Regions from separate parts of the Homo sapiens genome. Here region 2 is linked to region 1. Evidence: fine-mapped expression QTL. Tissue or cell type: Th2 cells. Region 1 holds a variant in brackets; the other region holds the start of a gene. All regions are shown on one strand. Distances are from middle to middle.

Region 1 (8,377 bases):
CTCATGTTCGTATTTCCATCTGTCCTTCAAGGACCAGTTCAAACATCTCTCTCCTTCCCCGTGCTACTAGTGAGAGCTAAGATCAAGAAAAAGCTGATTTAAAATATAATAAATTAAGAGTAAATCATATATTTAGATATATTAATTCTAACTTAGAGGAGTCAGGATGGAAACAATCTCTCTTTCCTGTAAATTCATATAGCTAATTTCTTAGATCCCTAAAGCATTTATTTCTAATATGTATTAAATATGTATTACATCTTGTTTACTAACTTCTGTCAGCAGTACCATCAAAATGCCATAATGTTTACTTCTTTACAGGTTTTTCAGGCTTGAGTACAAAGCAACAGAAGTGTTTTTAAACTCCACCCTCATTCTTACCTCATTTAGTAAAAAAGTTACTGATATGTGGCCATATTTGGCCCTATTTTATATATATATAATATAATGTATATAAAGTATATATAAAATATAATATATAAAGTATATATATTATATATTAGTGTATATATTATATATAAGCATATATAATATATAAGTATATATTATATATATAAAGTATATATAATATATATTAGTATATATTATATATAAAGTATATATATTATATATTAGTATATATTATATATAAAGTATATACATTATATATATTAGTATATATTATATATAAAGTATATATATTATATATATTAGTATATATTATATAAAGTATATATAATATATATTAGTATATATTATATATAGTGTATATATTATATATATTAGTATATATTATATATAGTATATATTATATATATTAGTATATAGTATATATATAAAGTATATATATTATATATAAAGTATATATATTATACATATTTAAAGTATATATATTATATATATATAAAGTATACACACACACACACACACACACCCACCAGGGAGATTATACACACACACCAGGGAGGTTGAGAGAAGCTTGTAGGTGGCTAGATGTTTCTTGTTGGGAGTAATAGTGGGGCAGGGAGTAACTTATCAAAAATATGTTTTAAAAATTACCAGGCATGGTGGTAAGTGCCTGTAGTCCCAGCTACTTGGAAGGCTGAAACAGGAGGATCTCTTGAGCCCAGGAGATTGAGGCTGTAATACTAATTATCATGCCTGTGAATAGCCATAGCACTCCAGCCTAGGCAAGATAGCAAGACCCTATCTCTTTATTAAAAAAAAAATTACGTGGATTACAAAACACTTGAGAAAGTATAAAAATCAATATTTTTGTATTGTCTGAAAGGAAGGAAACTGGATAAAAATTAATTATATTAAATTAACAATAATAAATGTAGTGACAAATGGATTTGTTTTTCTTATATTAATTTAGGAACGACTGCCAGCAAAAAACCTGGGAACCGAGAATGCAATCATCTTTGTAAAAGTAAACATACATGTGGACATGACTGCTGTGAGTTCCTTAAAACAAGTTTATTTAAAGTGTTCAAAATTGAAAGGTCTTTGGTGGATAGTAATGACATCCTAATTATGTATGATATTTATATTATGCAACTTAATAATGCAAATAATTTTCTCTCTGTGGGCAACATGAAAAAAGTAAATACTAGATTTGAAATTTTAAAGAAATTTGACTTTATAAGAATAAGATCTGAAGTTTAACCTAAAGAATCTGAAGTTTCTTTTCATAGGTAAAATTGGAGTTGCACAGAAGTCAGAAATTAAAGAGTCAACAATTTCTTCATATTTATCTGATTTAAGAAACAGGAATGCTGTTTCATCTGTTCCTCCAGTTAAACGTCTGAAGGTTAGTTTTAATAACATTTTTCCCATTGTTCTGTAGTTAAACGTATATAAATATTCTTTGTTCTGTCTGTCAATTAGGTATCCACAGTGTACTATAGAATTACTTGTGGGCTTGACTAAGAATATTACCATTATTCATAATCCATCTTCCCTTCTTTCTTCTTTCCTTTTTTCTTCTAAATCTTTCTTCTTTCCTTCCATCTTCTTTGAGCACCAAGAATATGCCAAAGTGCTAAGATACAGTGACGATTAAGACAGTCTTATTCCCAATCATAGAATTTGTAGTAGAGTGAGAGATACAAGTAAGTAAACATGCTTTTTTAATATAGTGTGATGAGTGATTCTGTGACAGAAGTACAACACAGTTAAGTTTAGACAGAAAAGGTACTCAATCCACATTTGATGGACCAAGAAAGGATTCCTAATAGATGTGATTGGGACCTGAAGGATAAGCCAAGGATGGAGGGGCAGGCACCAGAATGATCGTAGGAAGGGATAGCTAAATATTCCAAGCATAGAGATTATACAAAGGTCCAGAGGTATAAAGAAAGAGAGAGAGAGAGGGATCTTTAAAGAAACTCTTTCTCAGTAATACAGTACGTCTAGAGTTTGATTACAAGTAAAGGAGTAGAGAGAGATGAGGCTGAAGAGGCAAGTAGGAGCTAGATCATGCAGACCTTTTTGCTATTTTAAGGGATTAGACTTTATCATGAAAGTACTGAGAAGCCAATGAAAGATTTTAACCAGTGACATGATCAAAATTGTATTTTGTAAAAGTCACTCTGACTGCAATGTAGAAAAGGGATTAGAGGATGATAGAATAGGAACAAAGGGACTCATTAGGTGGTTTTTACAATAATCTAAGCAAAATAATGGCCTAGTTTAGGGTAGTGGCAATAGCAATGGAGGGAAGTGACTGGGTTAAAATATTTTTCAGAGGTAGAATCGCTACCTTGCTACTTCATTGGTTATAAGAGACAAAATAGAAGGAACAGTCAAAAATGATGCCCAGGTTTCTGGCATTAGCAACTGGGAGAAAAGTGGGGTCTCATTCAGGTAGATATTCTGAAGGAAAAGCAAGTTTGCTGAAATAGAGAACAGGATAAGTTCAACTTGGGAAACACTGAATTTAGAGGGCCTGCAAGATGTCTAGCTAAGGATGTCCTACAGACAGCTGGATATAACTGTTTGAAAATCAGGAGACAGAGCTGAGCGAGAAGTAGAAATTTGAGAGTCATTCACATGTAGATGACAATTGAAGCCACAGGAATAAATGAGATCTTTGATTGAGAAGGTGTAGTGTAAGAAGAGACCTAGTAAAGAACCATGAAGAATGCCAACATTTAGGCCAGATGTGGTGGCTCACGCCTGTAATCCCAGCACTTTGGGAGGCCGAGGCGGGTGGATCACAAGGTCAGGAGTTCGAGACCAGCCTGGCCAACATAGTGAAACCCCTGTCTCTACTAAAAATACAAAAATTAGCCAGGCATGGTGGTGGGCACCTGTAATCCCAGCTAGTCAGGAGGCTGAGGCAGAGAATTGCTTAAACCTGGGAGGCAGAGGTTGCAGTGAGCTGAGATTATACCACTGCACTCCAGCCTGGGTGAAAGAACAAAACTCCATCTCAAAAAAAAAAAAAAAAA[T/AAT]GCCAACATTTAAGAAGGGCCTGAGTGAAATATTCGAGTCAAGAACTAACCTGAGTTTCTCCTAATTCATTGATTTGGGGACTTTATGTACCAGCAGGAATTTTGTTGTTTGGCTCATGTGTTACAAGTTATTGATGTGAAACTGATAGTTGAACTTATTTTTGTTTCATTAATAGATACAGATGAATAAATCTCAAAGTGTGGACCTTAAAGAGTTTGGTTTTACTCCAAAACCTTCCCTTCCTAGTATATCAAGGTACAAATATAATGTTAATATCTAAGGTAAAATATTTATCGTAAACTCTGTTCCTGCAGGTAACCACTTATTCAGGGAAAGATAGTCACTGGCTACCATCAAGTCACAGTTATCGTTTAGTTCCATAGTGAAGCAATAACATCATAATGGTTTCATTATCTTTGATACCCTAAATTTATTTAGAACTCTGCAGTTATGAAATAACATTCATTAGATCATCTCTTCCCTAGGAAACTACCTATCCTCTGTCATTCCCTTAGGTTCTCTCTTTATAGGGAATATAAACTAAGTGACAAGAGTATACTTTAAAATGGAAATCATGTTGGTGTACAGTCTAACCTTTCCATTTAGAAGCTCAGTCCATATTAATAATATCTCAGATTTATAATACGAAAATTACACATTTGTGCATTATATTTTCTGACTTAAACAACAACATGGCCCATAAAATGAGGTATTTTTTCGTCCCATTGTATAGATGGAAAAACTGAAGTTCATATTCCTAGTTAGCAAGCAGAAGGCCTTAGGTGGTAACTCATTGTTCTTTTCCTGTATCCTGATGCCTACAGGACAATCATATATGTAATTTCCCTGCTAGATAAGGGCATTCTATATGCAGGAATGACATTCAATGTATTTAACAACTAGTACAGAACAGGAACTGACTCATCAGAATAGATGCCAGCAGTACTTCTAGAGATCCTGGCTTTTGTTATCTAACTAAGGGCATGTAAAGGAAAGTATTGGTCACTTCCATGAAACACCTATTTATTTGCTACCCAGCCTGGGTCCAGTGTATCATAGAAGTGTTAAATGGATAAATCATTATTTTTGTTTATATGAATAAATAGTTTTCAGGCTTAGATTAATTTCCATATTTTCTTTAACATTTTCATGGTTTTATCTTTATAAAGGTCAGAATATTTAAACATATCTGAATTGCCTATAATGGAGCAGTGGGATCAGCCTGAAATCTATGGAAAAGTTAGACAAGAACCATCTGAATATCAAGACAAAGGTAAATTACCATTGATACTTACTTGAGAGAGTAAATGGCTTATTATTACTTTGAATTGACGAGTAGTGTTATTGAAACACCGGCATCTGAAATTGTTATGATTATTAACTTGGCAACATTTTTCTCTTAGATTACTGAATCATTTTCAAATTCTTGGGTCTGTTATTGAGATGGTCTTACTCTGTTTGTTGTACTTTTTAAAAAAAAATCTCTTTCCTACATAATGCTATTTTAATTTAAAGATACTATGAGGAAAACCTGAGCAAATAAGGGATCCTTGGGTATATAGAGTATTAACATACTGAATGATTACATTCATATATCATTAGAATTATTTAAAATAATTTTATGTTTATAAAACTAGTCCAGTTTTACAAAATATCAATGTGACCTTGGGCAAGTTATTTAATCTCTTTGGGCTTTAGTCTTATCTTTAAGATGAAGGTATTGAACTGGGTGACCTTTAATATCTCTCCAATTCTTAAACCTATGATTCTTACAATTCTATGTTAGTATGAGAAAATAACTTAGGTTGTGGGATATAGCTAGTTTGTAATCTAGATTTGCTTTTTTATCTGTGTCCGTCATTAAATTAATGAGATAATGCATATAAATTCAACACTGCCTGGTTCATCATTACTCTGGTTCCTGCAATTAATAGAGCATAATTTCCCTGAATAATGCTATTAATAGCCAGTCTGTTAAAACATGAGACAATCCTATCCATTGAGTTATTTCTTCAAGTGGCTGTATGTAGAAATGGTAAGCTTGGGGTTTTCTGAAAATCATTTCATGTGTTTGGCATTGGCTTCTGTTGACATTCTTTTCTTCATGCTGTCATTTTTTTTTCTTCATGTTGTAACTTTTTTTTCCTCTAGTCATAATTTAAGATTTTACAGAGTCAAGGGCTGGAGTATTCACTACCTCTTGTGATACCATGGCAGCTATTAGGCCCAATAATGAGATCAAGAAAAGTTCCCTAATCTCACCTGGAGAACCAGAGCATTTATCCAACTTATTCAAAGCCTGGATGTCATTACAAAGCGGATAGGAAGTATAAAATTGTCAACCTTCTTATATTTATCTTTGTTCAACATGTAGCCCTCTAACTTACTCCTTCCTTATATTACTACATTATTACCTGTCCTTCTGCATACAAGAGCTTGTCTATCCTTCCCTCTGCTTACTTTTGTGTTATATTTACATGGTTTTCCTACTTTTCTTTCCCACTCACTATTCCAAATCCAATTTATATTATGATATTAAAGTCTCATCTAGATACTTTAACCCCCAATAATAACTCTATCCCTGTTTTACTGAGTGGGCCATTTTTTTTTTAAGAAGTTGCTGCATGGTATAGTAGTTAAGTTCGCAGGATCTGAAAACCATCTGTCCAAGTCCTAGCTCTGATATTTAGTATAACCTTTCATAATCTACTTAACCACTTTGTCTAAGTTGCTCATCTGGTTATATTTTAGGGGTTTTAGGATTAAATGAGATAATGCATGTAAAGCTGTTAGGGTTTCTGGTACTGTTAGTAATAACTAATTATGTTTATTATATTTTTCACATATTAGTCTTTGGTGGCAAAACATACTTTAAATGTATTCAAATACTGCTTTTGAGAATGTTTTTTAAAAAGCATGGCAGTTTTTATCTTCTGTATTCCAATTTCAAAAAGGGAAGAAGAAAAAATGTCACAAATTATATGAGAAAGCATGTTGAATCATAAGATTTAAATTGGAAGGGACCTTTATGCAATTTCTCATTTTATAGTGAAAGAAGCCAAGACTCCAAGAGATTAAATGACTTGCCCAAAAATTTCATATCTAATTAATGGCAAGGCCAGAAAAAGATTCCATATCTTTTGATTCCCAGCCCAATGCCATTTCTATAAAATGAAATTGACTTTTAGTGATCAGTGGAGAACTGAAAATTGAACCAGTAGTATATGAACTCTTTCAGCTTTTTGCCCCACCCCTCAACTATATATTTCCCTGTCTCTGCATCCATCTGTAACCATCTATTTGTCTTAAAAGAAAACTTATCTTTTCTTCCACTCGAGGCATATCTCTCCTCCTGTAATCTTAATTCTATCCAATCCTGCTTTCCCTGGGACTTTAGAAGATCATTATCCATCTCCTCTTTCCCATATTTTCATTGTTTCCTCTCCACTGTGTCTTTCCCTTTAGCATATAAATATGCTGAAGTCTCTTCCTTCTTCAGCTTCTGGTCATGACTTTTTTATTATAAATGATAAAAATTCTACTCAAAATGACTTAAGCACAAGAAAAGGAACCAATTGTCTCAAGTAAACTGAAAAGTATCTGGCTTAATTCTGGCTAAATCAAGGCACTCATGCCTCTGGCTTTCTCTCAATCTTTTAGCTATGCCTGTTGCTACTTGGCTTTACTTTTTAATAGGGTTTCTCACACAGCAGGTAGCCCCTAACTTACATCTTACCAGTTTAGCGCCTCAGTGGAAAAAGGTAGACTTCCCTGTTAGTTTTGGCAGACCAGAGCTCATTCTAACTGGCCTCATTTGAGTCATGTGTTTATCCCTTGATCAATCCCAGTAACCTGACGATTGGGTCGTTGTATACCTGTGGCCCCAGAGAAGGCAGGGCACCATGAATAACGGCCTTACTAGGATCCAGTAGAATTGTAGAAGCAGTTTCCTCAAAGGAAAGGGAGGGTACTCCCACTAAAAGAAGGGAAAGCATACCAGGCAGACAAAAAACAGAATTCTAGAGTCCCCATACCCTCTATCTCTTGCTTTCTCATCAAAACAAAAATTAATTGAAAGAGCAATTGACACTCAGTATGCTCATCGCTTCCTTATACCCTAGTTACTCTTTATTCATTAAAATTTAGGTTTTCTGTGTATCAGTCCTTTGAAGCTGTTTTTGTTCAGGCCATTTAGTGACTTTCTAAGTTCTGAATTCAGTGAACTGTTTTCAACTGTTAATCTCTTTGACCTCTATAGTATTTGATACTACTGGTCTTTCCTTTCTTTTGGAAATCTCTCCTTTGATTTCAGTAAAACCATTATGTTGGTCTCCTGTTACTTCTTAGACTGCATGGGCTTTTCTTCCTGTTGATGTTGCAAAAGGATTCTTTTTTCTTTTTTTTTTTTTTATTCTTCTCACTTCAAAAACTTTTCCTATACAGTATCACCCAAGCCCGTGTCTTTAATCACTGACTATGTTTTGATAATTTCTAAAGCTGTATCTCCCATCTAGACCTTTCTTTCTAACTCCAAATCCATCTGTATAATCACCTTCCTGGACATATCCACCTAACAGTTAACATATCAGACATGTCAGCATCTGAACTCTGTCTTCTTCTTACCTCACTCTACACCTTTTCTTTTTGCCTTAGCTCAATGAATGAACTCTTTACTTTGTTAAGCTGCTAAAGTGTCCTTCTAAATAGCTCACCCCACATGTAAATAATCACCAAATCTTAATTATTTTGCCTCCTGCACATCTCTCATATTTGTTATTTCCACTCTATCCTTTCTGCTGATACTCTAGCTTAAGCATTCATTCTCTCTTGTTTACTGCAATAACTTACTTTTCTCTCTGCTTTCAGTCTCATTATCCTTCAATCCATAATATTCAAAGTGATCTGACAGACATATCTGGTTGTGTAAACCTTCTGCTGAAAC
Region 2 (8,377 bases), 230 kb before region 1:
GGGATCACTTGAGGCCAGGAGTTTGAGACCAGCCTGGGCAACATAGCAAGATCCTGTTTCTAAAAAAAATATTTAAAATTAGCTGAGTGTAGCGGCACATGCCTGTAATCCAAGCTACTCAGGAGGCTGAGGGGGTAGGATTGCTTGAGTGCAGGAGTTAAGGCTGCAGTGAGCTGTAATTGCACCACTGCACTCCAGTGACAGTGGTGTGACAGAGAGACCATGTCTCAAAAAAAAAAAAAAAAGCTTGCCAAAACAGTGAAAGAATAAACATTTGACCAATATTATGCCAGATAGTTTGTGCATTACAGCATTTTTCTTAATAGGAAAAAATAGAAACAATCTATAGGGTCAATAGTAAAAGGTGATTGAATATATTATAATATAATATGCAATGGACCTTAAATCCAGTTGTAGAATATTTACTACATGAGCAATATTCAAGATATATATTAAAAAAAATGGAGATCAGAAATAAGATCCCATATTCTGGTTCTCTTTTCAAAAACAAAAACAAAACAAGATCCCAATTTAGTTTCTAAAAAATGTACCTATGTATGCCTAGAAAGGCTAAAGGAATATAACAAAATGTCAACAGTGGCAATATTTCAATAATGGGAAAAGACTTTATTTTGGCTTTCTTTACTTCAAAAATTTCAATAATCATGTTTATCAGAAAAATGTTATAAAAATCTGACAAATATCTCAAAATAAAGAGACATGCTATTCATCCATTACACTAAGTATTTTACTTTATATCCTTACATTAAATCATTCATTCAAATATTTTCAAGCACCTACTATGTGCTGGACACTGTTAAGCTCTGGGAATGCTAAGATATATAAAACATCCAATCAAAAATATAACTTCAATAAGGAGTAAAGTTGATGAGGTGCAGGCATATACCTGTCTCATGATCTAATTTGATTTACTTTCCCAATTAGATTACTAGACTGTTATGTGCCTGGACCTCATCAGCTTTGCTCCCTATTGAAGTTATGTTTATATAACTTTAGCTGTTATTAAGATCATATTTAAAAAAGAACCATAAGAGTAAAGTTTTAGCACGTTTTATAATTTATCATATTATAATGTCCAATGTTCTGTTACATAAACGCTACAAAACTTTTGAAATCCGTAATAAAATTCACCCCATTCATTACTTCCCAGCAGATTTTCAGAATATTAGAATAGTGGCATTCTCCTAAACATGATGCTAGAACCAATTCAGAGTCATCCATTCAGATACTCTGCTGAAGTCACAACATACTTTAGAAACCAGAGGAGATACTGCCGCCAAGGGGTTTACAGTGGAGACAAAATGCAGAGTCCTAAGCAATAGAAAAAGAATACTACAATGACTGTGTTACTGTGTTATGTGTCCAGTGACTAGTAAGGGAAAGATGAACTAAAAAAACAGCTAACTGCTGGAAAAATGGAAAGGAAGAGGAACAGTATCCATGAAACTGGATGAAAGTGGCATTTTAAGATTATTCTAGCACCAACATACAAGATGAACTGAAGAATGGAAAAGTGCAAGCAGGCAGCATAGGTGAGAAACTGTTGTAAATCAGGAACAAAGTGTAAGGAAATTAATTAATGTGGTGGAAATGGGAATGGAAAGAAGACACAATGCCATACTTACTAAAAAGAAATAAAGCTAGGTGACGATATGGGGAACAAATAAAAAGCATCAGCTGAAGATTAAAGTTTCAAGTTTAGGTAAGTGGGATAACTGACTTCCATCAAAGCAGAAAGTATGTGATGTCATATTTTTCTAGGGTGGGGTTATAAAGAATATATGGACAAAAGGTCAAAATAAGTATCTTTTAGACAAGCACAGAATTCACTTAAGACAAAGATGGGAAAGATGATCTGGCTACCCTTTCAGAAAAAAAAAAATACAGTCAACTAGAATTCCTCTATTTAACAAATATTTATTATTAACAAATACCTACTATGTCCCAGGTCCTGTGCCAGAGCAGAAATGAAGGTACACATGCGAGTGTACAAGAGCAGGCACTGCTTGACCCTGTCTTATTCACCCTAAGGTCTGGTTTACGGTCAAAGAACATTTCATGCTGTACACTGAGATATGGTGCTTTATTATTGCTACAAACATTTCATATTTTTTTGTCTGTGAGTTCTGCTTTTGAATACTTAAGTGATGATCTCCAGTGTCAATTTCTACATTTAAGCTTAAGGCAATGTGGTGAGTAGAGATAAGAACACAGATACAAAAGAGAAATTTAATTTGGGCATCATCAAATTTCTGCATTCTTAATTACCAATACTGAGACCATAGCAACTTCAACCGTAAAACAGGTTGTATTACAGTCTTCCAAATCGCAATTCAGTCCTACATTTAGATCATACGAAGCTCTGTTTTAACACTGTCCTATAGAAACATACAATTCACTTTATAAGATTCAATCTTATTTTTTGAGAGGAATTGAAAACACAGAATTGTTGCCTGAAAAATCTTTATAACTGTACATCTTTGGATTTAAACACGTACCTGCAAGTTTAAAATTCTGCTCGTTTTTTTTTAAAGAGCCTTCAGCCTGAAACCGGTCACGCTGGGGAGAAAAAGCCATTGGCTCATCCATCTGAATCCCCAAAGACGCCTCCATCACAAGCCAATTGAGATGCAAAATGCCAGCTAAGGGGTTACATCCACAGGGGGAGCAAAGCAGCTGTGAAAATTAGAACACTAGAGAAATTTAGATCACTCGCTAAACCACGCACTAAAAACATGCTACTGCCCCCCAAAGGGGCAAACATTTTCAAACGCACGATGTGTCCAAACCTCCACAGTAGGGCATACTGTGGCCTTGTCTAAGGAATTCCATGTGCTTTATTTTCACCTATCAGAAACACCGGCAGGGGGCTGCAGGGAGAATTTCCCGGCTTGGGCACCCGCGCAGCAGCAGGCGCAGTGGGAAACGGCGAGGCTGCCAGTCCGGCACAGCCAGCGGGACCGCGTGGGGGAGGGGCCGAGCGCCGGGGGCGGTTTGAAGTCAGGAAAAGAACTGAGGGAGAAAACCTTTTCGCCACTGACAGGAAGCGCCAGGAGGCTCGTCCAAGGCCCCAAGCAAGTTGACGGAGAACTGATACGACCCTGGCCACGAGTACTGGGCGGAGGAGGAGAAGGGTGAATGAATGGGAATCCGCCGGCCAGCGCTGGCCGCGAGCTCAGCCGGGAAGGACCGGCTTCCCTCGGGCCAGAGACCGAACCAGATGCTTAGTGCGCAGGCGCGCGACTTTCCCGCCGCAGGTCGGAGGGATCCGAAGGGGGGCGGGAAAAGGAACTGCACGGCGAGAAAACCGAAGTCACGATCCAGAATTCGTTCCTAATCCCTCACAATCCCGCGCCATGGAACAAACCGTCGGAAACTCACGGTTTAAGGGAGTACGACTTCTGTGGCTCCCCAGATGCCTGGGTCGCCGTCTCCAAGAGATCCCCACCTACCGAGTCGATCGGATGCGCCTGCGCAACACTTCCCGCCGCCGCTCTGGTTGCACATGCGCACACTAAAGCCCTCGACCCCGCGGATTCCGCTACTGGGCGTTTGCGCAAGAGGGTGGGGTTTCTTCCCGCCGCCTTGGCCAGCTAGAAGAGCGGTTACGGGAATGAAGCCCGTGGATGATCTTAAAAAACAGGGTGAACCATAAGGCTAAGGGCCCAGCATGATTTCCAGGAAAGAAGCTAGCTCAGAGAAGGAAAAATCTCAGGTGCTGACACATCCCTATATACGTGGCCGGCCGCACAACACATTGGGCACTCCATGGATAAAAGGCACTTTCTTGACTCTGCTTTTATTTCCTTTTCGTTGAGTGCCCTACTTCCCCGTTAAAAACAAGCAGAAAATGTAATTGCTGATTGTTTGTGGCTGTGTTAGTAGAAATTAGCACAGTGGCAGGAAGGCAGTGTATACTATTTACTGAGCCCTTGGCTATGAGGTAGGTGGGTTTTTCTAGGGGCTGGAATCATAGTGAGCAAGATAAACACCATCCCTGTAGGAAGCTAAATTCCAATGAAGCGATGACAATAACGGATGAATAAATGAACAGTATTCTTTCCGGCATTGATTACTACTTGAGGGAAATACTGACCAGGAAGGTGGCATCTAGATGGTCAGGGAAGCCCTCTCAAAGAGACCTGGATGAGAAAGAGCTGGTAGGGAGACTGTTGTCCTGGCAAAGAAAGGATAGGGCAAATGCAGAGAGAAAGAGGAACTTGGTATGTTGCAGGGGCAGGGCAGGAAAGGCCAGTGTGGGGGAAGCATAGTGAGTGAGCCGCAAGATAGTCCCAGATAGATGAAGGTGGAGAGTTAGGCAGAAGCCAGACCAGGGTCCTTGAAAGCCAGGGTAAGAAGTTTAGTGTTTGTTCTGAGTACAATTGGAAGCTATTTGAAAGTTTTAAAGCAAGGGAGTAATATGATCTATCTGTTATGAAGAGAATGGATTGTAGAGGGGCAAGTGTGGAAGCAGAGGAAATAGGATGCACTTTATGTTTAGGAGAAACATAATGGTAGTTTGGACCAGAACAATGGCGGAAGAAATAAAAGAAAGAAGACAATGGGATTTGGTGATTGGCTATGGAAAATGAAGAAAAGGGCATCATCAACAGTGAATCTTAGGTTTTGGGCTAGCATATGTGTGGGTGGTAGTGCCACATAGAAGGGAAGTCTGTGAGGTAATGGTTTTTGATTGAGTGAGGTGGAAGAGAGTAAATCAAGGATTCTAGTGTGGATACCGAGAAAGAGAAAAGCAGACCTTGACATCCAGGAGATGGCCTGGTACTACCAGCTTGGTTTGCTGTTGCTTTGAGCTGGCCTGGCAATCACAGCCAAGCATTGGTATTCTTCTGTTGAACATAAACAATTTCACAGAACATCAGACAAGACAGAGTTGTGACCGTGATAGATCAAGACAAAAGTAAGATCACTCTATAATCATATGTGAACACAGACACAACATCAACATTGCCCAAGCCATAAAAATGATCAAATATCTCCTTATCCTAGCTAATATGAGTGCCTGCTGCTTCTTTACCAATTATAGTTTTAACCTCAGTCTAGTCTTCCTTCCTTCTACATAATACTTATTAAAATACCCAATTATAGAATTATCCTTGCTTCCTTACAGCTTCCAATCCAGGCCAAAGTCCCTCTTTCTTGCACCCTTCCGTAAATCTCCTAACACAAACTCAAATTCTATAACAAGTCCTTTTTAACACCCTCTTCCTAAGACATCCCATGGTTCCCCATGGTGTGCATTCTCACGTACTGAAACAAGCAATACATCCAAGTTGCTCAGCTATAGTTGTGTTCCTGGTGGTCATTATCGGGAGGTCGTTAACAATAATCAAGTCCAAGATATGCAAGTGATGATGTCAAAGAAACAGATGAATATATTGGTCTGGGGTATAGTTCAGGGTGAAGAAATAAACTTGGCAGTTATGAATTTATAGATGAAACCTAGTCTTGGACTATACGATATTATCTAAGCAAAGATTGTAGATGGAGAGTTGGGCTATGATAACTTCCAACATTTCATAGTTGAGCAGAGGAGGAGGAAGAACCAGCAAGAGACTGAGAAGTAGTAGTCTGTGAGGTAAGAAGGTGATGTCATAGAAGTCAAGAGCAGAAAGTTTTACAATTAGAAGAAAGTGGTCAGCTATAGCAAATGCTTCACAGAAGTAGTGAGGATACAGAATTGATCAGAGATAGTCATTAGAGCCTTCAGAAAGAGCAGCTTTGGAGTGAGACAGAAAGACTATATTGAATTTATTGACGAACAAAAGATCTACAAATGGAGACAACTCTTGAGGTTTGGTTTGTTTCTTAGTTTGGTTTCTTGTCTTTATTGGGGGGTAGGGCGCACAAATAGAATAGTGGCTACAGTGTCAAATTGTTTATAAACTTTATACTAGCCGTGTAACTTGGGCAAGTTATTCAATATCTGTGACACTCCTATTTCAAAAATGTAACATGGATAAAATACTTGCTTGGTTTTGCTATAGGGATTAAATTAGATAAAGTGACATAATACATGTAAAGTGCTTGGTCCCATAGGCCTGGACATTGTTAGCTTGTATTAGTTAATTTATAATGGGTACTTTTTCCCCCTTTGTCAATGATCCCATCCCTAATACCTAGCACATGGCTGTTCACATAGTATGGATTTAATAAATGGCTATGGAATTAATGTACAATGAGAAGTTAGGTTTTATTTATTTATTTTTATTATTCATTCATTTATGTATTTACTTAGTAGAGACAGAGTCTCGCTCTGTTGCCCAGGCTAAAATGCAGTGGCATGATCATGAATCACTATAGCTCCGAGGCTCAAGCAATTCTCCTGCCACAGCGTCCCAAGTAGCAAGGATTACAGCTGTATGTCACCATGCTCAGCTAGACATTAGGTTTCAAATGGTTGGTTGCACTTATGTCTCCTGTAAGCAGATTGGAGGTGGAGATAGATTGTTTAATAAAAATTATTATTTAGAGATGTTGATAACTACATACACACAGTTTTCTTTAGGGTCAGACCAGTGCCTTTACCATTTTTCCTTCATAACATGTTTATTCTGCCTCCAGGTCTGTTTGTGCTGCATGTGCATGTGTGTGTGTGTGTGTGTGTGTGTGTGTGTGTGTGTGTGTGTCTTTTTGTCTTTTGTTTCTATCTCTGCATCCTCCAAAGTCAGTGAAGTTTTCTTTAGATAGCCTAGCCCAGGATCTGTCCCTTCCCTAACTCACGGCTGACCCATTATGGGCTGGAAGAAGTTACTAACTCAGAGTTAGCAAGAAAAGCCATGGACCTGTTTGTGCCAGTGAGATTGTGGATCTGTGCTATTGCAAAGGGATCCTGCCCTCCTAAGTGTCCTCTTGTCTTAGAGGGAGCACATGAGAACAATCTTATTAGTAGACTTCAAACTACTTAGGCACCAGGTAATCTGCATTTAGAAGCCAAGTGATTCTAAGAGTTGTCTGGGAAAACCAGATGCCCAGCTACTGGAGACCTTGAGGCCTGTGGAAATTTGAGTTGGGTGCAACTTCTCACTCTGGGAGAAATGGGGAGTCTCTGGTCAGTTGTACGGTGAACTCAGAATAGGTTCCCAGAACAACTTTCAAATAATTTTGCTCATCTCTCTCTCCATGAATGTCCCTACTAAAGGACACACCCCGCCCCCCCACACACACACCAAAAAAAAAAAAAAAAAAAAAAAAATGACTAGGAAAGAAAGAAATGACAAAGGAAAAGTTAGTGGAAGTCTTATCCCCCTTTCCACTATTATATATATAAATAGCTGACACACTGTCTTAGAACCTCCTATCTTTAAGGAATTTATTAACCTAGGATAGAAATAAAGCAGACCGGGTGTGGTGGCTCATGCCTGTAATCCCAGCACTTTGGGAGGTTGAGGCGGGCAGATAGCTTAAGTCCAGGAGTTTGAGACCAGCTTGGGCAACATGGTGAAATACTGTCTCTACAAAAAAATACCAAAAAATAAAAATAAAAGTAAAAAGGATTAGCTCAGCATGGTGGCACATACCTGTAGTCCCAGCTAATTGGGAGGCTGAGGTGGGAGGATTGCTTGAGCCTTGGGGGTTTAGTCTGCAGTGAGCTGTGATGGCACCACTGCACTCTAGCCTCGGTGACAAAGCAAGACCTAGTCTTAAAAAAAAAAAAAAAAAGAGATAAAGTAAAGGAAATACACAGCTTTTGAAACTGAACAGAAATTATTTCTTAGGGCAATGCCAAGTAAATGAAGAAATTCCTAGGTTATAAAATGAAATTCTAGCCAGGCATTATAAAGTATACCAGGACGAAACACTTAGAATTTAATGGGGAAAATTTTTATTTCAAAAACAAAATTGCAAATTATTTAAAAATCTAAAAGGTATGAATCAATTCTGAAACTACAATGAAACAGCAAGAAAATTTGAAATACTCAAAGGTCCACAAATTTACCAAAGTTTGATTTCTCAATTAGTAATGTAGGACAGAAAAAAACTGCCTACAGGATTGTTACACAAACCAAATAATATTTAAAGCTTCTAGGAGAGCTCATGGAAGACACCTAACATTTGAATTTATTTTTTCATTCAATGAATGCCTTCTCACACTTGCTGTGCCCAGCAACACAATAGGTACTTGTAATATGCAAATGACTAAAAAGAGGACTCCACTCTTAAGTAGCTTGATATATATCTAATGGCTGAAGTGGACAGTTTTCATATTTATCTTTTATGACCCAGCATGGAGCATGTCTTTCTCAGGGAAGCCTCACCAACTGAATAGGTTGAGTTCCTGGGTGCGTGCTTCCCTAGCAACCTGTACTCCAGCTTTTATCACAGTAACATGAAT

The links. PIP is the estimated chance that this variant, and not a neighbour inherited with it, causes the effect.
Region 2: it holds the start of CDC7, and the variant in region 1 is fine-mapped to the expression of CDC7 in Th2 cells (Schmiedel 2018, PIP 0.95).

The regions. Positions count from the first base shown.
Region 1 is chr1:91,270,043-91,278,419 of GRCh38, reverse strand. It overlaps HFM1 (helicase for meiosis 1), which reads left to right. Exons shown (of 39, transcript NM_001017975.6): 31 at 1,358-1,438; 32 at 1,677-1,792; 33 at 3,611-3,690; 34 at 4,605-4,708. Among named protein-coding and RNA genes, the nearest start is that of HFM1, 130 kb to the left of the region's middle. The variant T/AAT (reference allele first, on the strand shown) is at 3,435.
Region 2 is chr1:91,495,974-91,504,350 of GRCh38, reverse strand. It overlaps CDC7 (cell division cycle 7), which reads right to left and starts at 3,500. Exons shown (of 12, transcript NM_003503.4): 1 at 3,403-3,500; 2 at 2,520-2,697. The coding sequence starts at 2,634. LOC105378856 (a long non-coding RNA gene) reads left to right here and starts at 3,503. Exons shown (of 3, transcript XR_947599.4): 1 at 3,503-5,836. RefSeq lists an enhancer at 2,659-2,858.